Linked DNA regions of Homo sapiens. The protein of the gene in region 1 purifies or fractionates together with the protein of each later gene. This does not show direct contact. Each region holds a gene or a part of one and is shown in the gene's direction. Other genes may lie near its edges.

Evidence for each region.
Region 2: the proteins of SLC17A2 (region 1) and KCNT2 purify together in Homo sapiens (affinity purification with mass spectrometry; 2 studies listed by BioGRID and IntAct, with this or other methods). This does not show direct contact.
Region 3: the proteins of SLC17A2 (region 1) and ST7L purify together in Homo sapiens (affinity purification with mass spectrometry; 2 studies listed by BioGRID and IntAct, with this or other methods). This does not show direct contact.
Region 4: the proteins of SLC17A2 (region 1) and ATP8A1 purify together in Homo sapiens (affinity purification with mass spectrometry; 2 studies listed by BioGRID and IntAct, with this or other methods). This does not show direct contact.

What each region holds. Positions count from the first base shown.
Region 1 is NC_000006.12:25,920,672-25,927,700, reverse strand, and holds part of SLC17A2 (sodium-dependent phosphate transport protein 3), read left to right. Parts: intron 1-1,821; 5' UTR 1,822-1,904; coding exon 1,905-1,932; intron 1,933-3,794; coding exon 3,795-4,006; intron 4,007-6,288; coding exon 6,289-6,522; intron 6,523-6,607; coding exon 6,608-6,695; intron 6,696-7,029. UniProt on the Homo sapiens protein: Acts as a membrane potential-dependent organic anion transporter, the transport requires a low concentration of chloride ions. Mediates chloride-dependent transport of urate. Can actively transport inorganic phosphate into cells via Na(+) cotransport.
Region 2 is NC_000001.11:196,227,417-196,234,445, reverse strand, and holds part of KCNT2 (potassium channel subfamily T member 2), read left to right. Parts: intron 1-6,110; coding exon 6,111-6,222; 3' UTR 6,223-7,029. UniProt on the Homo sapiens protein: Sodium-activated and chloride-activated potassium channel. Produces rapidly activating outward rectifier K(+) currents. Contributes to regulate neuronal excitability.
Region 3 is NC_000001.11:112,574,113-112,581,141, reverse strand, and holds part of ST7L (suppressor of tumorigenicity 7 protein-like), read left to right. Parts: intron 1-1,765; exon of another isoform or gene 1,766-1,835; intron 1,836-2,724; coding exon 2,725-2,797; intron 2,798-4,053; coding exon 4,054-4,156; intron 4,157-5,908; coding exon of another isoform or gene 5,909-6,016; exon of another isoform or gene 6,017-6,028; intron 6,029-7,029.
Region 4 is NC_000004.12:42,458,094-42,465,122, reverse strand, and holds part of ATP8A1 (phospholipid-transporting ATPase IA), read left to right. Parts: intron 1-46; coding exon 47-230; intron 231-322; coding exon 323-433; intron 434-7,029. UniProt on the Homo sapiens protein: Catalytic component of a P4-ATPase flippase complex which catalyzes the hydrolysis of ATP coupled to the transport of aminophospholipids from the outer to the inner leaflet of various membranes and ensures the maintenance of asymmetric distribution of phospholipids.

The sequences.
Region 1 (7,029 bases):
AATTCAAAATTTAGATGGAGAGATACTATTCCCAGAATTCTAGAGATATTTGGAAAGCAGAAAACTATACTTGCCATGCTGATGAAGTCCAATTATTGCTCTTTTAAATACATTTAGCTACTTCTGAATATAAAATGAGTATCTACTAATTATTTACAAAATCACTTGGTAAATATAGAAAGTCACAAAGAATGAAGTGATCATCCTGTTTTGTAACCCAGAAATAGTCATTACTGGCACTTGTGTGAATCAGTTTCTATTCCTGTATGTGGATGTGCACAGCGTATCCTGCTTTGTACACTAGAGTACTAGCATTTTTCTAATGTAATTCAATATTGTCGAAAACATTTTAAAATAGCTTCCATCACAATAATCTATCAAATTGACTTGCCAGACTCTCATTATTAGGTTAATTTATCTCTAACATTATGCAGTCATGAGTAATACTACAAAGGATATTTTTGGACACAATTTTTCATCTATGCCTTTCTTTATAATCCTTCATCCTAAGGTCACAGATTATGAATATCTTTAAAGTACGGACAAGTCTTTTAAATTTTGTGTGCAAAAACAGTGCAAAGCCTTGAATGATAAAATAGAGGTTTGATATATGTGTTTTTTTGTTTGTTTGTTTTGAGACGGATTCCTGCTCTGTCCCCCAAGCTGTAGTGCAGTGGCACGATCTTGGCTCACTGCAACCTTTGCCTCTTGGGTTCAAGCAATTATCCTGCCTCAGCCTCCTTAGTAGCAGGGTCTACAGGCATGTGCCACCACACCCGGCTGTTTTTGTATTTTTAGTAGAGATGGGGTTTCACCATGTTGGCCAGGATGATCTCGAACACCTGACCTCAAGTGATCCACCCACCTCAGTCTCCCAAAGTGCTGGGATTACAGGTGTGAGCCACTGCACCCGGCCGATACATGTGTTTTTAAAGTCACAGAAATTTCAGATGTCTTGAAGGATTTTAAGCAATTTAAAAAATAAAGTCATAGAAGCTTCAATTTAGGAATGAATGGAAAATTGATGATATTCTTAGGATATGGATTTTTCCTAAAAGAAACAAATGTATGCATCCCCAAAGATAATTTGATTAGTATACAAATATTAAATTAAACATGTCCATATTTAGAGCCATGAATTCTCTTTGCCTGTCACAATAGCTGGATTTATTCACAATTGTAGTAATTAGTCCCTGTTCATTATAATTTTCTAGGTGATATGAAGACTTTGTCAGTCCAAGCAAGTGTCCACATTGTGTGTAGCAAACATGAGAATAAACATTTTAAACTTTTAAATGTAATACATATTAGTGTTATGTAATGTCATCCTTCATGTTCGAAGGCACATGGAACATTGTTCTGGTGGTACAGAGGGGAGAGAAACACCATCAGAATGAAAGGAAAGACCGCTCTGGAACCTTCCTCCTTAGCTCTTGAGCTTAGTTTAATTGTCCTGTCTTATGGTCTGCTACAAGCAATACCACTCTTCACCTTCGCATGCTTCTCTGTGGTTTGATAAAGTACATGCAATTTTTCATTTAATTCTTCCAGCTGCACTAAGAAAGGAGCCTTATCTTTATTGAACAGATGAGGAAATGAATGATTAGAGAATTTAAATGACTAGCTCTAGGTCACACAGCTGGAACTTACAGCCAGATTTCCTTTTAACAATCCTGTAACCAAAAGCATACCAGTAGTGCCCCATAAAATGTAAGTTATAGAGCTGTGTTGGGTCAAAACTTTTACTGATGCTAAGAGGAGGCAACATTAACAAGGGGAAATTATTTGTGTATTATGTTTTGGATTATGTTCTCTCCATAGATAAAAGACTGTCGTAGTAAAAGAGATTCAGGGCACAGGGAAACTCCACCACAAAGCGTGGTACCATTTCCCACAGAAGCTAAATGGACGGGAAGCCTGCCACCAGGAAAGGTAAAGCCACTGCTCTTGTTTGCAGGCTATGTTAATAAGCTGAAGCTTATTCCGACACATTTACACATCTCTGCATCACACTGACCCTTCGTAAAGATACTCCCAGTGTAACATTGGAGCCAGCTCCAGCCCCTGATCCTGTTGCTTTTTCCTTAGCCCCATGAAATCATCTGTGAGAAATTAAGCCAAATAAGCAATAAATCCTGGGATCTAGGGAGTGGAATAAGTTTTGGGAAAGTCTTTTTTTTTTTTTTTTTTGACTGAGTCTTGCTCTGTCTCACAGGCTGGAGTGCAGTGGTGCGATCTCGGCTCACTGCAACCTCTGCCTCCCGGGTTCAAGTGATTCTCCTGCCTCAGCCTCCCGAGTAGCTTGGACTACAGGCACACACCACCATGCCCAGATGAATTTTTGTATTTTTAGTAGAGATGGAGTTTCGCCGTGTTAGCCAGGATGGTCTCGATCTCCTGACCTCGTGATCCACCGGCCTCGGCCTCCCAAAGTGCTGGGATTACAGGCATGGGCCACCACGCCTGGCCCGGGAAAGTCATTTTAAACCAACCTATGTATGAATCCCTACTATAATATTCTCACCAAGCGGCTGGCTCTTTCTCCTGAGCTTGGAAACCTCCAGTAAAATGGAAATAATTATTTCCCAGACCACCACTCTTATCTGTGAGCTTTTTTGGCCATTAAAAATTATTTCTTCCATTATATTTTTATCTGTGTCTTCACAGGTTTTCTCTTTCTTTCACTTTAGTGCTTTTCTTCAAATAAGCAGGAAAAATCCAATCTATCATGCACATGGGAACCCTTTCAATATTGGTCTGTGGTTGTTCCATTTTATGGGGATGCTTTTAAAGAAAAAATTTGTCCTTTCAATATATTGAATATCTTCCAGCACCACATCACCTGCAAGCTTTGTAAAAATAGTTCTACATATTAATTTTTTTTTTTTTTTTGAGATTGAGTCTCATTCTGTCACCCAGGCTGGAGTACAGTGACATGATCTTGGCTCATTGCAACCTCTGCCTCCTGGGTTCAAGTGATTCTCCTGACTCAGCCTCCCGAGTAGCTGGGATTACAGGCATGCATCACCATGCCTGGGTAATTTTTGTATTTTTAGTAGAGATGGGGTTTCACCATGTTGACCAGGCTGGTCTCAAACTCCTGACCTCAAGTGATCCACCTGCCTTAGCCTCCCAAAATGCTGGGACTACAGGCGTGAGCCACTGCACCCCACGTAGTTTTTTTTTTTTTTTAAGTTGAACATATGTGAAGGCAGGACCTAGTGACACATAGCAATAACATTTCCAAGTAGACATTACACTAGGGAATTAGTCGAAGTGCTCATTTAAAGTACCATCTCTCAAATGTATTAAAAGAGAATCCTTGGATGTGCAATACCTTAATTCAAAGGCAGCTCGTTATGTATAAACTCTCAAGCTTTGTGATAAACAAATGTGCATAACAGATGGGACTATTCACTTACAGCCCAGGGAATTTTATTGACGCTGAGAAGGTTATGTGACTGGCTCTGCCACTGTCATCCCCATTCACTTCATTTTGGAGCAATATGACATAAATGCCTTACATGTGGGTTTTCTCTATTTATCATGTGTTTCCTATCCCCTTGAAAGATGGCCATATTTGCTTTACTTGGTTATAAGATCCCATATTCGCTGTCTTGAAGCCAACCAAATAATTTGACAAAGTGGGTTTGTAGTGCTGGCTATTTTGGTGAAAAAAAGACAATGAGACTTCATGTGTCATCCAAAGTTCTATCAGATCGAGCTGTGAGAGAAAGGAAAAGAAAGGGGTCTCAGTCAGGATGCTCACTACATACATCTGTGTTGTTGTCTAGGTCCAGATTTCTGTTCATTACGCTATGGGCTGGCTCTTATCATGCACTTCTCAAACTTCACCATGATAACGCAGCGTGTGAGTCTGAGCATTGCGATCATCGCCATGGTGAACACCACTCAGCAGCAAGGTCTATCTAATGCCTCCACTGAGGGGCCTGTTGCAGATGCCTTCAATAACTCCAGCATATCCATCAAGGAATTTGATACAAAGGTAAGTATGATGGAAAATAGGGCTCTTTGTTGAGAGAAAAAACTTTGAAAGGAAGGCATAGATCTTGATTCTGTGGAGTATGGAAGTATACATTTCCAATGACAAATTAAAACTGACTGGAACTATTTTTCTTTGAGACATTGCTTACTTCAATAATAAAAATAAGATTTCATTGAGGTTATTATGATTATAAGGTGGGGGAACTGTAGAGTTAAATGTGAAAAATTTAAAAATGGAACAGTTTATGTGATGTCTTCAATGAAAAACTAGGTATTACCTGGGCACATTCTTATAGGTTACTCAATCCTATTCAGTTCTCTGCCTGTTTTATTGTTTCTGAGCAATTTTATATCCCTGTAAATTCTATATAACCAATAGAAATGCAAACGATTCTTGTCCATAGCTTTGCAAATAAATTTTGCCAAGAGAAAAATCAGTTAAAACTTTTCTCCACTCACCTCCCAGTTGAATTAGCCAATTTTGCTGTTTGTTTGTTTGTTTGTTTTTTGAGATAGAGTCTTCCTCTGTCATTCAGGCTGGAGTGCAGTGGCATGATCTCAGCTCACTGCAGCCTCCGCCTCCCGGGTTCAAGAGATTTTCCTGTCTCGGCCTCCCAAGTAGCTGGGAGTAAGGGGGCATGCCACCGCGGCTGGCTAATTTTTGTATTTTTAGTAGAGACAGGGTTTCACTAGGCTGGTCTCGAACTCCTGACCTCAGGTGATCCACCCGCCTCGGCCTCCCAAAGTGTTGGGATTACAGGTGTGAGCCACTGTGCCAGGCTCTGCTGTATATTTAAAGTCTATTTCAGCATTGCTTCCTGCTTGTGTTATGCGTGATTCTTTGAGTTTTCCTTTGAACCAGTTATAACATCTTACTTACTTCCTCCATTAATCAATGAGTTAAATAAAATCTTTGTTGTATGTTTATTTTACATTTATATGAAAACCATGAATTTACCCAATTAAAAAAATTATCCTTTAAATTATCTTGTACTGTACATTTCCCATGTCATCCCTATAATTCATGATTAATGATTTTATTACATTGGACCTAGCTTATTTACAATGAGTACATAAATTTATTGTCTCCAGTCTTTCCTCCATTATCCCGTCTACATATCCACACTGAGTAGATTCACTACTCAGGAATCTTGGACACCTTCAAGTTGCCAAACATGCAGTGTTCACTGGACATGCTGTGTTCCTTCAGAATTTGGGCCTGCTTCTCAGCACACTCACATCTGCTATCAATGACCCATGGAAAGTTTTTGCCCTGAGCAAGCCAGAGTCCCTGTTAGTTTCTTCCAAATGCTACAAGTTCACTTTTGCTATTTTTTCCGATGAGATAAAATTTTCCTTTTTGACTTTCTACAAATCATAGTCATTTTTCAAGGGATAGTTCAAGTATTGCTTCCTTTCTGGGACCTTCCCAAATTATTATTTTCTCCTCTCAAAGTCTCTGTTTTATTTATGTTCATCCTCAAATCTTGATTCTCACATGAATCATATACCTTGTATTATTTATAGTTTTTTTGAGTGGGTAAAATATTTCATATTTTATATTCTTTGGCTCTCTACTTTATAGCATGATGCCAGATATTTAGGGGCCTTATTGCATTTATTTTTTATTTTATTTTAAAATCTATTTTATTTTTTATTTATTTATTTTAAAATCTATTTATTTTTAGGTAAATATTCAGGTAATATAATTTATGTAATTATTTAGGAATTTTAGGTAGTTATTTTAAAATAATTCAAATTATTTATTGAGTTATATCAGAAGAATGTGATCTTATTCATTTGTAATATGTGTTTTAGGAACTCAGTTCAGCCAGGGCAGACCATGATTCCCAAACTTGACTTTTCTTTTTAATTAGGCACTGATTTTGGTTAAGAGTTCAGTAAAGTTTTGTGTGTGTGTTTTAAAAAATTCTTTGATATAAGAGTCAAGATGTTACTCAACTTTTACTAGAAGCAAAATAGAGGAAGTGCTTTCACAGATGAAATATCTCTCAATGTTTTCTTCCATTTACTTCTTCCTATTATTCATCTATATAATCATTTTCTTTACCTCTTTTCTTCATTTCTTCTGTTTTTCTCTCCTTCTACTAAGACAAGCAAATTAGGGGTATAATTGGTTATTTGGGAAGGTAGGAAGAATATAGAGAGAAACAAAAATCAATATTTTATACTAGGGTCTCACTAACCTCAAGCAACTCTGACTGTAAAGTAGATTTTCATAATAGGACTTCTTGACAAAGAGTTTTCCTATTTTTCCCCCAGGCCTCTGTGTATCAATGGAGCCCAGAAACTCAGGGTATCATCTTTAGCTCCATCAACTATGGGATAATACTGACTCTGATCCCAAGTGGATATTTAGCAGGGATATTTGGAGCAAAAAAAATGCTTGGTGCTGGTTTGCTGATCTCTTCCCTTCTCACCCTCTTTACACCACTGGCTGCTGACTTCGGAGTGATTTTGGTCATCATGGTTCGGACAGTCCAGGGCATGGCCCAGGTATCCAGATACTTTCTCATTCTTGGTGGGATCCAGATTTCTGAATTCTACAAAATATCAAAGGTCTTAATGATTTTCATTTCAGGGAATGGCATGGACAGGTCAGTTTACTATTTGGGCAAAGTGGGCTCCTCCACTTGAACGAAGCAAGCTCACCACCATTGCAGGATCAGGTAAGTGTGCACAGATGGGTCATAGCTTTGTCATCTGTTCCATCCCACTGTGTCTTATCTTCTATGAATCAAATGGTTTGGGGAAGAGAGAGAAAAAGTACTGCTGAAAAATTCAACAATATAAGACACTTGCATCACAAATAGGAAAGATGCATCTGTGCAGTAAAGACATTGAAGCTTAGAAGTAGAAAAAACCATTGTGAGCTAGGTTTCAGCTCAGAAAAGCCTTAGTAGTCAGAAAAGCCTTAGTAGTCAGAAAAGCCTTGTCGGAAAAAGTTTAAACCTTTAAGAATTGCACACATGGAAAAAGATCAAGTAAGCTATATATACACCA
Region 2 (7,029 bases), on another chromosome or scaffold:
AAGGCAGAAAATGAGACTTGATTATTGATTTGGGAATTGAAAAAGAAGTTTAACACAGCTTTAGGGTTTCAAACTGTGTGATTACAAAAATAAAAAAAAAATGTTGTTTCATCAAAACAAGTCAGAATGGGGAGACAATTTTCCAGGCAGGAAAGAGGGGCTGTTGGGTAGTAAAAAAAAAAGAGATGATATGTGGGTCCAGGTATATATGTATTTTTAATAAATGTTGACTTTCTAATTAATTAAGTTTATTGATATATAATAGTTGTGCATTTTATGAGGTACATGTGATATTTTGATACATGCATAAAATATGTAATGATCAATCAGGGTAATTGAGGTAGCCATTACCCCAAACATTTATAATTTCTTTGTGTTAGGAATATCCCAAATGTTCTTTTCCAGCTATTTTGAAATATACAATGAAGTCTTGTTAAGCATAGTTGCCCTACTGTGCTTTGAAGCACTGGAATTTATTTCTTCTGTGTAACTGTATTTTGGTTACTAATAAACCAGTTTCTCTCCATCTTCCCCTCCTCATCACCCTTCCCAGCCTCTGGTAACATTCTGCCTACTATCTCCATGAGATCAATTATTTTAGCTCACACATTTGAATGAAAACATGATATTTGTTTTTCTGTGGCTTATTTCTCTTAACACTGACTATGTTGTTTTTCTGTGGCTTATTTCATTTAACACTGACTATGTTGCTGCAAATGACAGAATTTCATCTTTTTTATGGATGAATGGTATTCTACTTTGCATATATACCACAAATTTTCTTCATCCATCCATTCAAATATGTTATTTAAAGTATAAAGAGGAAATGTCTAGAAAGCATTTAGATACACAGTATTGGAACTTTGAAGATAAGCTAGTTTTCTGTAGAAAAAATATTTTTTATCTTCCAGCTGAAAAAGGCTAAATAGGGAATGTTTTTTCCAAAAATATAAATACAGAAGAAACAGTAGAATAATTAGTGTTGTACTACTGACGAGTGTTTTGTTTTAGGGCAGAAACAGGAAGCATTTCAAAAACTTATTAGGAAAATAAAACAGCAGGAGTAAATCTGACCCCAAATAAGTGTGAAAAGATTCCTAAAATGCACCTAAGATAGAACTATCAAGTATAATATTGCTTTATTTTGCCATCTGATAATACTGGTTAGAATACAGGAGCATTGGGGAAACAGATGAATAACAATTTAAGCTAGTAGAATTCTTAAGTCACTGTCAAAAATTGTATCTGATGGTGATATTGAATTTATAAAGGACTTCAATTAGAGGAAAACATCTTATTTATGATGCACTTGGATTTTAATTACTCATCCTGGACCCTTCACATAGTATATTATGATAATAAAATAAAGCTGTTCTTTTTTCATGGCATCCACATTTATACATGTCTTTTTTCTTTTAAGTCCATAAGTATAGATAATTTTTATTAAATATCTAATCTACCCATATTAATTCCAGCCTTCTTATACCTTTTTTCAAATAAATATAATTGTGTTAATTATATAGAATTTAAAAAATTATGCTTACCTTATTTGTATTTTATAATAAATTATGTTTCTTAAGCTTAATACAATCATTTCCCATAATTATTTTTGACAGAATGTTCAAAGAAAATGTTGTCACCCTTTTGAGACTAAGAACATGTCATTTTGTCAAATATTTATGTTCTTGATTTCAAATGATGTTTAATCTTTTTACTTATGAATAAAATATGTATGTCACAATGTGGACAGGTAAAGTAGACATATTTTTAGAGAATTTTCTGTCTTTTAGATACTCTTATTTTTTATTAGTTTTAAGCTAAAACATCAACTTGACTGCTATTAAAAAAATAAAAAAGCTTTTCTTACACCATTGCAGTGATCTGTATTTGTGGCATTGAGATAATTAAATTTCAGTGGAACCAGAACAATGATAAATTATCATTTGAAAGATGCCTACCATGACATGTAATATATAAAAACACAGTTTAAGAAATTTGCTTTATTGGACTCATAGGTTTTGTAGTGACAATAATAGGAAAAGGAACTTTTGCTACTGCATCAATGAATGCAGAGAATAATGGATTATACTGTTATCTTTTATGTTTTTCTAAAAATTCACTTTCGGAAGTTTGTTTTAAATGAAGAAGCAACATTAATTTGATGCGAACAATAATAAATCACTAGATGATATGGTATTAAAAAGTGTAATGTGCACTATTAGTTTTCTTCATCAATCCACAATGCTATTGATATTTAAAGTAACTATAAAGCAGTGTGCATAGATGACAAAATCCAGTTAATAGGTCCAAGAACACTAGTCTCAACTTTTATTTGGTCAAAGAAAATAGACTCAGTGTTTTTGATTGCCTTTTCTCATTTTCATTAAGGAGTATATTTTGTGAATTTTTCCCTTCAGTCTTTAAGACAAAAGTGCAAACTTTATTAGCGTTCTCACTTTTTAATTAGTTTTCCTGTTCATTTTATATACTGCCTCTTAAAAATATTATAGAAGTATTAAATACTTCTTTCATTTGGACTTGGAACATGACTTTCTTAGAATGCTGTGTTGCATATATTTATTTTCTTCTCTCCTTTTCAAACCCTTAGTGGCTTCCTACTGCCTTTAAAACACAAATTGAAACTACTTATTCTGAAACTTAAGGTCATTCATTACCTGTTTCCTACCTTTGTTTTTGACTTTACCTACCATGATTTACTAGTTTTCTAAAGTCAAATCATTTCTAAGCACATCAGAAACATCCATCCTCTGTGGTCTCCATTGACAACATTTGGGATCACCTCCTGTTCCTTCCTCCTAAATCTTCTCTGAAGCCTGGAGAGGCAAGTTCAACCCAACCCCACAATAAAGCAGTTCCTAATTCTCTCTGTTGTTCTTTTTCACTTTGTATGATGTTTGGAATTTCTTTTTTTTTCTTCCATTATATCTGCTTCATAAATTTTACTTTAATCTTCTGCCGGACAGGAGTCATGTTTTGTGATTTTGTTTTAATTCTAAGGTGTTAGCACAGTTTCCTACAGGTGCTCAAGAAGCAGTCACTAAAGATACTCAGGCATACCTCAGAGATTTTGCAGGATTGGTTCCAGACTACCACAATAGAGTGAATATTGCAATCAAGCCAGTCACTTGAATTTTTTGGTTTCCCGGTGCATACAAAATTTATGTTTGCATTATACTTTAGTCTACTAAGTGTGCAAAAGCAAAGCATTATGTCTAAAAATTTACTTAATTAAAAAACAGTTTATTGCTAAAAAAAAAATGCTAGCAGTCATCTGAGCCTTCAGGGAGTCATAATCTTTTTTTGCCGGTAGAGAGTCTTGCCTCAATGTTGATGGCTGCTGACAGATTGGGGTAGTGGTTACTGAAGGTTGGAGGGGTGTGGCAATTTCTTAAAATCAGACAACAATGAAGTAGTATGCTGCATTGATTGACTCTTTCTTTCATGCAATATTTATCTGTAGCATGTAATACCCTTTGATAGCATTTTACCCGAAGTGGAACTTCTTTTGAAACTGGAGTCAATCCTTTCAAACCCTGCTGCTACTTTGTCAACTAAGTTTATGTAATAATATAAATTCTTTACAGTCATTTCAACAATGTTCATAGCATCTTCACCAGGAGTAGATTTCATCTCAAGAAACCAATTTATTTGATGATAAATAAGAAGCAACTCCTCATTCATTCAAATTTTGGTCAGAGATTGCAGCAGTTGAGTCACATCTTTGGGCTCCACTTCTAATTCTAGTTATCTTGCTATTTCTACCACAACTGCAGTTACTTCCTCCATTGAAGTCTTGATCCCCTCAAAGTCATCGATAAGGGTTGGAGTCAACTTCTTCCAAACTTCTGTTAATGTTGATATTTCTACCTCATCCCACGAATCATGAACATTGAAATTACTCTTTGATCCATGGGCTGCAGAATAGATGTTGTGTTAGCAAGAATGATACAATACTAATCTCATTGTACATCTCCATCAGAGCTCTTGGGTGACCAGGTGCCTTATCAAGGGGCAGTGATATTTTGAAGTCTTTTTTTTAAGTGTTAAGTCTCAACAATGGGCCTAACATTTTCAGTAAACTATGCTTTAAACAGATTTGCTGCCAGTCAGGCTTTGTTTTTCCATTTCTGGAGCATAGGCAGAGCAGATTTAGCAGAATTCTTAAGTGTCCTAGGATTTCCAGAATGGTAAATGAGTATTGGCTTCAACTGAAAGTCACCGAATGCATTAGCCCCTACCAAGAGAGTCAGCTTGTCACTGAAGCTTTGAAACTAGGCTTTGTCTTCTCCTCTCTAGCTACTTAAGTACTAGATGGCAACTTTTTCCAATAGAAGGCTGTCTTCCAAATTGAAAATCTGTTGTTTAATTTAGCCACCTTCATCAATAATCTTATTAATAGTTTGATTTTTTTGATAACTTGCTGTAGCTTCTGCATTAGCACTATCTACTTCATCTTGCACGTTTATGTTATGGAGGGGACTCATTTCCTTAAGCTTCATGAGCTAACCTCTGCTAGCTTCCTCTTCCATAGCTAACCTCTTCCATAGCTTCTTCACTTCCCTCACCTTTCAGAGAATTGAAAAGAGGTAGAGCATTGCTCTGGATTTGGCTTTGGATTAAGGGAATGTTGTAGCTGGTTTGATCTTTTTTCCAGACCACTCATACTTTTGCCATCTCAGCAATAAGGCTGTTTCCTTTTCTTATCAGTTGTGTATTCACTGGAGTAGCACTTTTAATTTCCTTAGGAACTTTTCCTTTGCATTCACAACTTGGCTAACTGGCACAAAAGACCTAACTTCCAACTTATGTAAGCTTTTGATGTTCCTTCCTCACTAAGCATAATCATTTCTAGCTTTTGATTTAAAGTGAGAGACATGATACTCTTCCTTTCACTTAAACAATTACAAGTCATTTTTGGGTTATTAACTAATCTAACTTTAATGTTTTTGTGTCTTGGGGAATACAGATGGTGGAGGAGAGGGAAAAGAGTCGAGGGAATAGCCAGTTGGTGGAGTGATCAGAACACACATATTTTATTGGTTAAAATTGCCTTCTTATATGGGTGCGGATAGTGGTATCCCAAAACAATTACAATAGGAACATCAAAAATTACTGATCACAGATCACTATAACAGATATAATTACAATGGAAAAAGTTCAAGTTACCAAATCTGACACAGAGACCCTAAGTGAGCACATGCTGGAAAAAATGTCTCCAACGGACTTGCTTGATTCAGGGTTGCCACAAACCTTCCATTTATAAATAATTCAATATTGGCAAAGTGCAATCAAGTCAAAAGCAATAAAAAAGGCATGCCTGTACATCATTTGACAGTCTAAAGTAAGACAACTCTCTGAAAACAAATTCTCACATTAATGAAATGTTTGAGTTTGGCAGATAAACATTTTTCTATTTACTAGCAGAATTAATTAAGAATTATTCTCTATACTTTAGTATTATCACTTACTATACCATAAGCTGAATTTTAGATAAATAATTTTCCTGCTAATTTAAACGTTATGCATTATATTCACTATAACATTTGTTAAACTGTTGATTTTATAGATTCATAAAATATTTAAATTGAAAAGACTATAGAAATTGCTTACATCAATCTCCTAATTTTTTAAGTGATAAAAATAAGACAAAGAACAGTTAAGTAATGGAAGAATGATGGCTAAAATGTAGGTCTCCTTCATAGAAAAATGGCCAAAGTAAGGGATAATAAGTCAACAGCATACTTAATCATAAAACTTTGATGAGACGAAGGTGCTGAAATTGATTATAATTGAAAAATAATGGTGACTGACAGTCAACATGCACAGGGAAAAAGATGAAGAAGAAAAATAATAGTGCTTGATTCATCAGCATTCATCATCATAATCTTCTCAGGTATGAAAATGATAATATTAACCATGCCAAATTGTAAAGGCCAACCAAACAGTGAGTTCTACCACCAATGTTGTATACAGACAGTTTAGATAATCTGAAAACTGAACAAATAAATTAGAAATATGAAGTGTCAGTGTGAATTAATGTTGCCTGTATTTACTATTGCAAAGTTATTTATTTTGTTTTCTTTTATTAGATACTTAATTCGACCAGATCCACTGGCCTACCTTCCAAACAGTGAGCCCAGTCGAAGAAACAGCATCTGCAATGTCACTGGTCAAGATTCTCGGGAGGAAACTCAACTTTGATAAAAATAAAATGAGAAACTTTTTTCCTACAAAGACCTTGCTTGAAACCACAAAAGTTTTGCTGGCACGAAAGAAACTAGATGGAAATATATGTAATTCTCTCATATTTAAAAACGTAATCTCTTCTCTTAGAAGTATAGATCATTTTGAAACTTAATGTACTACTTACTGGTACTCTCCCTATTAATATTTGAAGGACCTCAATGGAATAAATTTGAAAAGCTAAATTAAAATACAAAAATTTAAATCTGACATTTAATTGTTTTATAATAATCCAAACTCTATGAAAGCAATTTTAAAAATTATTAAGGTTTTATGAAGTTGACAAAATCTAACTATATTTGGTGCATCACAATGGACACAGAATGCTGCTGCTCCTCTTAAAAATTAAATGTGTCATATTATATTCTTTAAACTTACTGTTTTACAAAATTGAGCTCATCGTAAATGTCTAGTCTTCTCACATAGAGATTAACCAACAAACTTGTGTGGCTGACTTTTGTGTAAGAATCATAGTTTGCTTTAGAATACAAATCTTTAAGTCATTTTAACTTTTTTTTCTGCCTTACGATATAAAAATATTTATCTTAGAATTTGAGATGTTCATAGCATGTTTTATTACATTGAAGAAACTAAAACATAAATGAAAAGAAACACTAGGTTCCTGCACTTTTTGGTAACTTTATGTCTAGCAAATATTTTATGCCAAGAAAAGCATACTATAAAGCAAATATCTATTATTCTCCTAAACGAATGCCTAGCATAGAGAAAATACTTAATACACATTTGTTGACTTAAATTTAATTC
Region 3 (7,029 bases), on another chromosome or scaffold:
ATATGATCGTTATAATAGTCTTATGATGTTGTGGGACAAGTATTTTTACTGTCTCCAATTAACTGAATAAGGGAACTGGAATTTAAGAAGGTTAAAGTATTGGAGTAAGGTCTCCCAGCCAGTAAAAGGCAAATCCAGGTGTTTGATTTCTTAGTTCATTAGTCTTTCCATGGTAACAATTCAATATATATTGGTTATTTTTATTTTTTTATTGGAGACAGAGTCTCACTCTGTCGCCTGGGCGGGAGTGCAGTGGTGCAATCTCGGCTCACTGCAAGCTCCGCTTCCCAGGTTCACGCCATTCTCCTGCCTCAGCCTCCCGAGTAGCTGGGTCTACAGGTGCCTGCCACCATGTCTGGCTAATTTTTTTGTATTTTTTTTAGTAGAGATGAGGTTTCACCATGTTGGCCAGGATGGTCTCGATCTCCTGACCTCATGATCTGCCTGGCTCGGCCTCCCAAAGTGCTGGGATTACAGGCGTGAGCCACCGCACCTGGCAGTTATTTTTATTATTATGTTATAACAATACCAGTTTACCACACATGAAGTTTGGAGAATTTTAAAGACATAAAGCCTCCCTTCTTATCCTGAGAGAGGCATCAGCTTTTAACCTCAAGCTGAAAATTTGGGGTTACTATGCTTCTGGTGGTATCTTTCACTATACGAGAACACATGTAAGTCACATTGAAGGCTGGACACAGTGGCTCATGCCTGTAATTCCAACCCTTTGGGAAGCTGAAGCGGGTGGATTGCTTGAGCTCAGAAGTTGAAGACCAGCTTGAGCAACATGGTGAAAACCCATTTCTAAAAAAAATATTTTAAAAATTTAGCTGGGTGTGGTGGCATGCGCCTGTAGTCCCAGCTGCTCGGGAAGCTGAGGTGTGAGGATCTCTTGAGCCTGGGAGGTAGAGGTTGCAGTGAACCAAGATTGCACCACTGTATTCCAGCCTGGGTGACAGAGTGAGACCCTATCTCACAAAAAAAACAAAGAAAAAGGTCGTTTATTCACATTTGTCCTGTTATAGGTTCCTACCCATTTGCTTGGGAATCCCCATGACTTGGGAAGTTTGAAATGTGTTATACTTGGAAAGAGAAGTTTACTTCTTTTAAACATCTGGAATTCTTAAGCAATGCTTCAGAATAGTGTAGGCTCATGGAGAAATTTGTGAGAAATTCTTTCCATATGTAACTTACTGGATACATGGCCTGCTTATAATACTTATGATGAGCAAGCTTAGGGACTGAATGTAACAAACTGGAATAGGACCTGATTCATTAAAAATAAAATAAAACTAAAACTAATAAAGCATATCTAAGTTGATATGCTTCTGTATTTTCAGTTATTTTCATGAGTCCCAGTTTTTACCATTCCAGAATCTGGAGGAAGTTGAAAGCAAATTTACTTCCTTAGTTCTCCATTTGCTAGTATGATTCTGGGATCAGAAACATCTTCTGATAGCATTATTTTGGATATTCTTTTGAGAATGATTGATATAATTAATTTACCTACAGTTCCAGATGAAATTTTTATTTTCTAAAAAATAATAATTTAAGAAAAATAAATCTAGGAAGAAGAAAAATATCACCCTCGGTTGAATCAACCTGGATTTAACTACTGTTAAATATTTTAATTTTTTTCTAATATTAGTTTTTCTCTATGAATAGGTGAAGGTTTTACATAGTTCTAATTATACCATGCCTTTTCCCCTGAACTTACTATAAGCAGGTTTTTTTTTTATTGTTTTTTTTTTTTTTTTTTTTACAGAGTCTCGTACTGTCACCCAGGTTGGAGTGCACTGGCACAATCTCGGCTCACTGCAACCTCGGCCTTCCAGGTTCAAGTGATTCTCCTGCCTCAGCCTCCTGAGTAGCTGGGATTACAGGCACCTGCCATCACACCCGGCTAATTTTTTGTATTTTTAGTAGAGACAGGGTTTCACTATGTTGGCCAGGTTGGTCTCGAACTCCTGACCTCGTGATCCACCCACCTCAGCCTCCCAAAGTGCTGGGATTACAGGCATGAGCCACCACGCCCGTCCATAAGCAGGTTATTGTAGACATTGGTTGAACGCATTTCACCGTTGTGCAGACGGCTTTCATAGACATAATTTCATCTCGGTCAGAAAATATCATTATTTTGAGAGGTGAAAACTGAGGTCAAACAAGTTGCTACTAGCTCAAAGATGCTTAGCTGGTAAATAGTAAGATAAAGATTCAGATTCAGCTTTTTCAACTTCATATACGGGTTTTTCCTACTATATTATAGATTTTTCAACATCACGTCCAGGTTTTTCCTATATAACTATTGAATTTGCATTGCATTGTGAATTATTCTTTTTTTTGTTTTGTTTTGTTTTGTTTTTTTTGGAGACGGAGTTTCACTCTTGTTGCCCAGGCTGGAGCGCAATGGCGCAATCTTGGCTCACTGCAACCTCCGCCTCCTAGGTTCAAGCGATTCTCCTGCCTCAGCCTCCTGAGTAGCTGGGATTACAGGCATGCGCCACCATGCCTGGCAAATTTTTGTATTTTTAATAGAGACGGGGTTTCTCCATTTTGGTCAGGCCGGTCTTGAACTCCTGACCTCATGATCCACCCGCCTCAGCCTCCCTAAGTGCTGGGATTATAGGCATGAGCCACCATGCCTGGCCGTGAATTATTCTTATTAAAAAATTGTCTCAATACCTTTTTTGTAATTCCTACCTAAATTGAAAATTATCGTTACAGATATAAGCCTTCCAAAGTCAGCAGCAATCTGTTACACAGCAGCACTGTTGAAGACAAGGACTGTTTCAGAAAAGTACGTGTTATAAAAACTACAATGATTTGGAAAGACTGCTAAACTCAGTATTATGCTTGTCCTCTACTGACTTTAAACAATGCTGTTTTCCACTCTACTTCCTTCTGAATAGCCCTGGATCTTCTTGGGCTTTTAGGCTTCTTGCTGTGTGTAGTGGAAAGAGCAAAGTTTTTAGAGCTAACCTGAGCTCAAATTCAAACTCTACCACATTTTAGCTATAGGACTGTAGGCAAGTTAATCATTTTGAGTCTCTCCTTCATCTGTAAAATGAGACTAATATTGCAGGAGGGTTGTAGGAGGATTATGTGTGGTAAGTGCCTAAAGCAATATCTAGAAAGAAAGTACACACACCAAATAGTAACTATGATGATGATGATAAAGTGTGTAGTAGGGAAATAGGCTTATGTTATCTCTTCTTAGAGTATAATTCTGAGTTCTTCTGCTTTTCTTGTATTTTTGGCTACTCTTAGTGAATTCTCTTTATTGTGCAGGTAAGATACTCAGAAACCAACCAAATAGTGGCCATTTTCTTTCACCTTAGATTTTTATGCTTTGATATGAATTAGAATGGAATTTTCCATTTGTGTCCTCTCAAATAAGAATTTGATAAGAATGTACTGCTATTTCATGAGATTCTCTGGATATCACTGTGTTGCATTTATTACTTTATTACCTTTCCTAAAGTGTACCTTCAGTGGACTTCTCCTGAAGGCCTTCTTTACCTAAGTTTGAAGACTTTCATTCCTTATGCTGCTTTGTTTTTTCTATGTTGAACCCACAAGACTATACTTTTTTTTTTTTTTTTTTTTTTTTTGAGACAGAGTTTCACTCTTGTTGCCCAGGCTGGAGTGCAATGGCACAATCTTGGCTCACTGCAACCTCTGCCTCCCGGGTACAAGTGATTCTCCTGCCTCAGCCTCCCATGTGTGCCTGGGACTACAGGCACACACCACCACACCCAGCTAATTTTGTATTTGTAGTAGAGACGGGGTTTCTCCATGTTGGTCAGGCTGGTCTCTAACTCCTGAGCTCAGGTGATCCACCTATCTCAGCCTCCCAAAGTGCTGGGATTACAAGCATGAGCCACTGCGCCCGGCCAGCTTTAATTTTTTTTTTTTTTTTGTTAGTCCTCTGGCTTTGTTTTTGGCCATCTCCAGAAACTTCTTTTGATTCAAGGGGCTGTATTATTATCTAAATTCATACTTTTTTTCTTTTTTTTAGCATATTTATTTTTTCATTTTGTGGTTTTCTTGTAGATTCTCTCCAGAAACAGCCTCCAGAAGAGGATTAAGCACAGCAGAAATTAATGCCGTGGAAGCAATTCATAGAGCTGTGGAATTTAATCCTCATGTTCCAAAAGTGAGAAATTTTATGATAAAAATACTACCTTTATTTAAGTTTATCAAATTGATGACAGTTCGTAGACCAGAGTCTGGGTCACCATAATTTGGTGCAGAATTGTTTTAATCTGCTATATTTTGATGCTTATTATTCACCTTACAGGGGACGTTGAAACATTTAGGCATTTAGAAAGGTAGATAGGAGCAATAGTTAGCTATATGCTTTGTAATTACTATCAAAATATAATTTGAACTGTGTTCACTTAGCTGTTCTTTTAGTATAGTTGTAGAAAATAAATAATGGGTTGGTCTTAATAAAAGATTATTCATATTTCTTATCACTAAATCAAATTTCCTGTTACTGTGAAAGCTTTTTCTAGACAGATGCCTGGGTTTTGAACTAGGGTTGGGTAGACAAAAACTGAAGACAAACAGATTAAAATAATCAATGATAGGAGGCAGATGTGGAAATTCCCAGAAAAACTGGCTGATGCTTATTTCGTCCCCAATGAGTCTATATACTTGCTTTGTCTTTATATTGTACACCTTGCAGTTATACAAATTATTGCTTAATCTTTGTGTGTTACAACACAAAATTAAATTTTGGGGTTTGGGCTGGGCACAGTGGCTCATGCCTATAATCTCAACACTTTGGGAGGCCGAGGTGGGAGGATTACTTGAGCCCAGGAGTTTGGGACTAGCGGCTGGGCAATGTGGTGAGACCTCATCTCTGCAAAAAATATAAAAATTATCTGAGTGTGGTGATGCTTCCTGTTGTCTCAGCTACTTGGGAGACCAAGGGGAGAAGATTGCTTGAGTCCAGGAGGTCGAGACTGTAGTGAGCTGCAATCACGCCACTGCACTGAAGCCTTGGGTGACAGAGTGAAACCCCATCTCAAAAAAAAAATTGGGGTTCTACAAACAATGCCCCATGTTAGGAAGTATAGACAATTCAAGAATAGATGCCCTTACTACGGAAAGTAATTATAGCTATTGATTCCAGTGAAAGGGTGTTAATAGAGCTTGGAAGCTAAAGAGCTACAGTAAAGAGATTAATTGCTAAAAGATAATTTCCAAGAAAAGGATGTTGTAAGCCTGTTAGAGTAAGTAAAGATATGGTTAAGAAAAGTACTTAAATCCAAGAAAGAGAGTCAACAAATATTTATACCATTCTCTCATTAAGTGACACTGGTTCCATAAATTTAAAGACAGCGGTTCACCCATATCTATGGTTTTGCATTCCATGGTTTCAGTTACCACAGTCAGCCTCTGTCTGAAAATATTACATGGAAAATTCCAGAAATAAACAATTCATAAGTTTTAAGTTGCATGCCGTTCTGAGTAGCTTGATGAAATCTTACACCATCCCCCTCCATCCAGGCTAGTACATGACTCATCCCCTTGTCCAGCATATCCAACACTGTCTATGCTACCCGCCCATTAGTCACTTAGTAGCCAACTCGGTTATCAGATCGACTGTCATGGTATCATAGTGCTTGTGTTCAGGTAACCTTTATCTTACTTAATAGTGACCCCAAATGCAAGATTGACATATTGTTATAACTGTTCTATTTTATCATTAGTTATTGTTATTAGTCTCTTACTGTGCCTAAATTATAAATTAAATTCTATCATGGGCATATATTTAGAGGAAAAAACATGGTGTACGTAGGGTTTGGTACTATTTGTGGTTTCAGATATCCACTGGGAGTCTTAAAACATATGTACTGAGGATAAGGAGTGAGTACTGTAAACTTTTATTTTTCTTTAGACAGAGTTTTGCTTTCGCCCAAGCTGGAGTACAGTGGCAGAATCTTGGCTCACTGCAACCTCCGCCTCCAGAGTTCAAGCGATTCTTCTGCCTCAGCCTCCCAAGTAGCTGGGACTACAGGTGCGCGCCACCACGCCCAGCTAATTATTTTGTATTTTTAGTAGAGACGAGGTTTCACCATGTTAGCTAGTATGGTCTCGATCTCCTGACCTTGTGATCCGCCCGCCTCAGCCTCCCAAAGTGCTGGGATTACAGGCATAAGCCACCGCGCCCAGCCTTGTAAACTTTTTATTATGAGTTCTACTACACATGCAGCAAAGTGTATGAGACAAAAATGTGCATCTTAATGATTTATTACAAAGTAAATGCTTGAAAACTATCGAGATCAAGAAACAGAACATTATCAACCCACAGACGCCTACCTGACTGCCCTTTCCCATTACAACCTCCCTTCCTACCTAAAGGTAACCACTATTCTTATTCATTTGTATTCTTATTTATTAATTATGTTTATTTCCTCCCTTTATGTTTTTTATCTGTACTTTTTATTTATGGATTTTTTTTCTTTTTTTTTTGAGACGGAGTCTTGTTCTGTCGCCCAGGCTGGAGTGCAGTGGCGTGATCTAGGCTCACTGCAAGCTCTGCCTCCCGGGTTTATGCCATTCTCCTGCCTCAGCCTCCCAAGTAGCTGAGACTGCAGGCGCCCGCCACCACGCCTGGCTAATTTTTTGTATTTTTAGTAGAGACGAGGTTTCACAGTGTTAGCCAGGATGGTCTCGATCTCCTGACCTTGTGATCCGCCCGCCTTGGCCTCCCAAAGTGCTGGGATTACAGGCGTGAGCCAGTGCGTCTGGCTTTTTTTTTCTTTTTAAGACAGACTCTTCAGCTATTCGAGAGGCTGAGGCAGGAGAATTGCTTGAACTCAGGAGGCAGAGGTTGCAGTGAGCCGAGATAGTGCCATTACACCGCAGCCTGGGTGACAGAGTGAGACTCTGTCTCATTAAAAAAAAAAAAAAAGTCCGGGCGCAGTGGCTCACACCTGTAATCCCAGCACTTTGGGAGGCCGAGGTGGGTGGATCGCCTAAGCTCAAGAGTTCAAGACCACCCAGGGCAGCATGGTG
Region 4 (7,029 bases), on another chromosome or scaffold:
TTCCTTTTTTCAGAAAACAGTAATTGATAATGTGTTTCAATTTCAGGGTTTCTCCTCTTCAAAAATCTGAAGTTGTTGAGATGGTTAAGAAACAAGTCAAAGTCGTAACGCTTGCAATCGGTGATGGAGCAAATGATGTCAGCATGATACAGACAGCGCACGTTGGTGTTGGTATCAGTGGCAATGAAGGCCTGCAGGCAGCTAATTCCTCTGACTACTCCATAGCTCAGGTAAAGCGTCATTTCTGCAAAACACATCATTCCTCTCAGTCAACTGATGCTTTGAAAAGGAAAATACTAATTTTTTCCCACTCTTGTTTTAGTTCAAATATTTGAAGAATTTACTGATGATTCATGGTGCCTGGAACTATAACAGAGTCTCCAAGTGCATCTTATACTGCTTCTACAAGAATATAGTGCTCTATATTATCGAGGTAATAGCAGGTTAAATTTTAAATCCTTGTCATTTGCATACATATTTAAAGAAATTTTCTTTATGGAGACGTTTTCTCATGGTTTTAATTAATATTTTATTTGCCAACTCTTTATAAATTCTAAATGTATTAAAACAAAAAGGTGGCCTGTAATCCCAGCACTCTGGGAGGCCGAGATAGGCGGATCACTTGAGGTCGGGAGTTCGAGACCAGCTTAGCCAACATGGTGAAACCTCGTCTCTACTAAAAATACAAAAATTAGCCAGGCGTGGTAGCAGGCACCTGTAATTCCAGCTACTAGGAGGCTAAGGCAGGAGAATCACTTGAACCCAGGAGGCAGAGGTTGTGGTGAGCTGAGATTGTGCCACTGTCCTCCAGCCTGGGCAACAGAGTGAGACTCCACCCCAAAAAAAAAAAAAAAAAAGTTTGTCAGCCATGGAGAATTATGTTTAAATTCTAGCTAAAAATGTTATGTTGCTTTGATAAGAAGTGTTGAATTAGAGATGCTAATGAGATAATAATGTATTTAATGTAAAAAATACATTATTAATAATGTATAAAAGTCTATAAACTTGACTGCATTTTTAATAAAGCTCAAAAACATGCAAAAGAAAGCAATACACCATGGAGGGATAACACACATGTAGAAAAGCTATTTTTTAAAAAAGGTGAGGGAATGAGAAACATCAACTGAAGCTAGCACCTCTAATTCTGGGAGGAGACAAAGAAGTGCAATCAGGAAGAATATGCAGGTAGCTTTGCTGGTATTGTTGCCTTGTTGTTCCTATTATGTTTCAAAACTTAGATCTTTGTTACATACAAGCATCCCTCTCTATCCAGATCTGTTTTTGTTTCCGTGTTTGGTGAGTAGCAAGAGTTCAGATGATGAAAAATTTGTCTAAAAATTATCAGAATATTTAGTTTCTGTCTGGATAGCAAGGGATTTCTATAATCCGTTTTATGTGTCAAACATAACATCATTTTAAAAATGAAAACCTGAGTCAGGAATACCACTTTTAAAAGGATGCATTTTGTTCTGTAAACAATTTTGTAGCACCTACTGAGCCCAGACACCAGGCTTAGTCCAACAACTACAAAGTAAATCAAGCATGGTTCCTGTCCTCCAGGAACTTGCTGTATTACTGTTCTCACACTGTGGATAAAGACATACCCAAGGCTGGGCAATTTACAAAAGGAAGAGGTTTAATGGACTTACAGTTCCACATGGCTGGGGAGGCCTCACAATCATGGAGGAAGGCAAGGAGGAGCGAGTCGCATCTTACATGGATGGCAGTGGGCAAAGAGAGCTTGTGCAGGGGAACTCCTCTTTATAAAACCATCAGACCTCAAGATGGTTATTCACTATCACGAGAACATCACAGGAAAGACTTGCCCCCATGATTCAATTACCTCCCACTGGGTCCCTCCCACAACACATGGGAATTCAAGATGAGATTTGAGCCAAACCATATCATTCTGCCCCTGGCCCCTTCCAAATCTCATGTCTTCACATTTCCAAACCAATCATTCCTTCCCAACAATACCCTAAAGTCTTAACTCATTTCAGCATTAGTTCAGAAGTCCACAGTCCAAAGTCTCATCTGAGACAAGGCAAGTCCCTTCCGCCTATGAGCCTGTAAAATCAAAAGCAAGTTAGTTACTTCCTAGATCCAATGGATGTACAAGCAATGGGTAAATACAGCTACTCCAAGTGAGAGAAACTGGCCAAAATAAAGGGACCACAGGCCCCAGGCAAGTCCGAAATCCAGCAGGGCAGTAAAACCTTAAAGCTCCAAAATGATCTCCTTTGACTCCACGTCTCACATCCAGGTCAAGCATGCAAGAGGTAGGGTCCCATGGTCTTGGGCCGCTCTGCCCCGTGGCTTTACAGGATACAGCCTCCCTCCCAGCTGCCTTCACAGGCTGGCATCAGGTGCACAATGCAGTCAGTGGATCTACCATTCTGAGGTCTGGAGGACAGTGGCCCTCTTCTCACAGCTCCACTAGGTGGTGCCCCAGGGGGAACTCTGTGTGGGGGCTCTGACCTCACATTTTCCTTCTCCACTGCCCTAACAGTGGTTCGCCATGAGAGCCCTGCCCCTGCAGCAAACTTATGCCTGGGCATCCAGGCATTTCCATACATCTTCAGAAATCTAGGCAGAGGTTCCCAAACCCCAGTTCTTGACTTTTGTGCACTCTCAGGCTCAACACCACATGGAAGCTGCCAAGGCTTGGGGCTTGCACCCTGTGAAGCCACTGCCCGAACTCTATGTTGGCCCCTTTCAGCCATGTCTGGAGCAACTGGGATGCAGAGCACCAAGTCTCTTGGCTGCACACAGCACGAGTGTACCCTGGGCCTGGCCCAGAAAACCACTTTTTCCTTGTAGGCCTCTGGGCCTGTGATGGAAGGGGCTGCCATGAAAACTCTGACATACCCTGGAGACATTTTCCCCGTTGTCTTGAGGATTAACATTTGGCTTCTCATTACTTAGGCGAATTTCTGCAGCCTGCTTCCATTTCTCCTCAGAAAATGAGATTTTTCTTTTCTATTGCATTGTCAGGCTGCAAATTTTTTGAACTTTTATGCTCTGCTTCCCTTACAAAACTGAATGCCTTTAACAGCACCCAAGTCACCTCTTGAATGCTTTGCTGCTTAGAAACTTCTTCCACCAGATACTCTAAATCATCTCTCTCAAGTTCAAAGTTCCACAGATCTCTAGGGAAGGGGCAAAATGCTGCCAGTCTCTTTGCTAAAACATACCAAGAGTCGCCTTTGCTCCAGTTACCAGCAAGTTCTTCATCTCCATCTGAAACCACCTCAGCCTGGATCTTATTGTCCATAGCATTATCAGCATTTTGGTCAAAGCCATTCAACAAGTCTCTAGGGAGTTCCAAACTTTCGCACGTTTTCTTGTCTTTTTATGAGCTCTCCAAACTCTTCCAACCTCTGCCTGTTACCCAGTTCCAAAGTCACCTCCATGTTTTTGGGTATCTTTTCAGCAGCACCCCACTCTACTGGTACCAATTTATTGTATTAGTCTGTTCTCACGCTGCTGATGAAGACATACCCAAAACTGGGCAATTTACAAAAGAAAGAGGTTTAATGGACTTACAGTTCCACATGGCTGGGGATGCCTCACAATCATGATGGAAGGCAAGGAGGAACAAGTCACGTCTTACATGGGTGGCAGCAGGCAAAGCAAGAGAACTTGTGCAGGGGAACTCCCCTTTTCAAAACCATCAAATCTCTTGAGACTTATTCACTATCACAAGAACAGCATTGGAAAGACTTGGCCCCATGACTCAATTACCTCCCACCAGTCCCTCCCACAACACATGGGAATTCAAGATGAGATTTGGCTGGGGACACAGCCAAACCATATCACTTGCCAACAGAAATACAATGCAAGCCACATTAGCAAAAAGCAAAAAAAAAAAAAAGAAAGAAAAAATTGATCTCAGTATATTTTATCTAGCTCAATGTATTCAAAAGATTATCATTGTCACCTGTAATCACTGTCAAAAATTATTAATGAGACATTTTACATCCTTCATCCTAAGTTTTCAAAATCTGGAGTATATTTTACATTTATACCACGTCTCAATTTGGACTAATCACATTTAAGTGTTCAAGAGCACGTGTGGCCAGTCTCTACCATGCTGGGCAGCACAGCAGTGGTAGATAAATAAGTGAACTGAATGGTTAATCAAGGCATGATAAATATGTTATTTGCCTTTTTTTAAAAAGTTGCCTTCTTATTGTCAGAAGCTATATGTGTAGTAATTCTAGGTGTTATCAGTTTCATGTCCCTGTTGGAGCTCTGCAGATCATGACAATGGCCTTCCCATTGTTAAGAAAACCTCATTCTCCCACTCCTGTCAAGGACCCACCATGGTCTCATAAATCTGCTGAGGGTTCCCTTACAGATAGATGTTTGTTTCTGCCACTTTACCATTTAATCTGTTGACTGTTTCTACACGTCTGTCAAAAAAGATACAGCCAGGCTGGGTGCGTTGGCTCACGCCTGTAATCCCAGCACTTTGGGAGGCTGAGGCGGGCAGATCACAAGGTCGGGAGTTCGAGACCAACCTGGCCAACATGGTGAAACCCCGTCCCTACTAAAAATACAAAAAATTAGCTGGGCATGGTGGCAGTTGCCTGTAATCCCAGCTACTTAGGAGGCTGAGGCAGGAGACTCATTTGAACCAGGGAGGCAGAGGTTGCAGTGAGCCAAGACTGTGCCACTGCACTCCAGCCTGGGCAACAAAGCAAGACTCCATCTCAGAAAAAAAAAAAAAAAAAAAAAAAAGATCCATCCATTTGCTATATGGAAATCATATTCTATCCTTTACTCTGAGAAGTAACAGTATAAACAAAGTCAGTACGTTGACACTTTCGTTGGGGGCTGGTGTATATTTGCTTCACCTGTTCTTTGTGCCTCTGTCAGAATGCTTATCTCCTTGTTAAATGTTGACTGAGCATAGTTCTTATTATGAGTCAGGCTAGTAAAATTGAAACTTAGTTTTGAAGTGTACAGGCAGTTTGGTGTAATGGTCACTAAAAAGGTTACAACCTATTAGATAAAATAACCTAATACAGGCCAGGCGCAGTGGCTCACGCCTGTAATCCTAGCACTTTGGGAGGCCGAGGGGGGTGGATCACGAGGACAGGAGATCGAGACCATCCTGGCTAACATGGTGAAACTCTGTCTCTACTAAAAATACAAAAAATTAGCCAGGCGTGGTGGCAGGCGCCTGTAGTCCCAGCTACTTGGGAGGCTGAGGCAGGAGAATGGCGTGAACCCGGGAGGTGGAGCTTGCAGTGAGCAGAGACCACGCGCCATTGCACTCCAGCCTGGGTGACAGAGCGAGACTCTGTCTCAAAAAAATAAATAAATAAAAATTAAAAAAATAACCTAATATGTGGAAATATAAACAAGATACGTAAATGAACTTACTCGTTCATTACTGCTAGATTTGGTCTGGAATAGTGTGTGTTTTGAAGCAAAATGCACTTCTAAAATAGTTTATAAGATTCAAAAAAATATTCTTTGTTGTTTATATAAATGTGTAGTTCTTTTCTAAAGTAATTATTTTTCTATTCTCAATCCCTTCTATATATCTAGCTTTTCTATTTATATGTTCTTCTCATTCCAGAACACTGACATTCAAGCAAATAACAATTTATACAGTTTATTTACATAGATTTATCAAGATACCAGGAATTTAAAGCCACTGCCAGCAATAAATCTGCTTATAAAAAGTTAATTTTATAAAATAAGAATGTCCAACTTGTCGCTTTTTAAATCTAAATTGACAGCAATAAAGTAGACAAAATTTATGTACTAATGAGAAAATAAAAACATTAAAATCAAATGAAAACAATCTTCATGCCCTGTCCTGTTTCAAACCCAGAATTATGTGATTTGTGGTTGATTAACCCTAAACTTCACTTGCCTTTGATTTTAAAACCTGTTCATGAGATATTTGACACTGATCAAATTCTTTACACAGTGAAAAGGAAGTGAGTTCTAAACTTTACTGGAAATCTCATTTTTATTTTTCTCAAGAGTTTGTGGAAATGTATTTTGAATATGATTCAACTGTCTTGGTAATGACCTTTTAAATCAATTCCCAGATACCCAACTTTTGCCAGCTAAAACAAGTTCTGCAGATGTTAATGGCTCATGTCAATACTGTGAATGAATAGACAGAAAACACATCATTGAATGTCTCTAGTGAGGACAACTGCCAGTCTCGAATCTCTCCTTTCAGTTTTTTGTGCTGATCAGGCGTGGGAGCAGAGGACTCATTGACTGTTTGTAAGCTGCTGTTTAATATGCAGAAATGCTCCATCAGGAAAATGAATGTGAAGCTTTAGCTGCCACGCCTCTACTGGGAGGTGGAATTTAGAAAATAATGCCAGGAGAAGCAGGTCTGAAATTTCTATGCTAATAAAGGAATAGTCTTGAACACTATGTGTTTTATAGATTTAAAACTACAAACACTGCTTTTCTCCTTGCTATATTGCTTAGGAAAGTCACTATCTAGATATTCCATTGCTGTAAATTACAGCCAGACGAATACAGATTTGGCAGATGGTGGTATAAAGCTCTTTCTTACAGGAGCTGCCCAGGAGCAGCTCTAGGTGTTCATTTAAATTATTGGCTCCTTTTAAAGAGAGATTTTTTTTTATTTCTCTGATATGTCTGACTCCTTCCTCATAAAATAAGACCTTTCCTTTCAAATGATTGGTCACATCCAAGTTTTCTGGGAAGATCTCAAAACCAAGTTGTGTTTCTAATTTCCAGAAGCTTTGATAAAAGTCAATAAGGTGATACTGTCCCAGCAAGTGGTGCTGGGAGTTGAATTCCCTGTGAATTTAAATAAACTAGACACCTCCCCAGAGGGACCGGTGTTTTCTTTCTGAATCTGTGGCTCTGGTTGAATTAGAGGAGGTACTTTTATGTGTTTGGGATAATTTAGATGTTGTTTTATTTTGCACGGGATATGTTCCCAATATTAACTACAATCTCAGCCTAACTTGAAATCGGCCTGCTGGTAGGCTACTTCACTGTTAAAGACCTTCTCTTTCT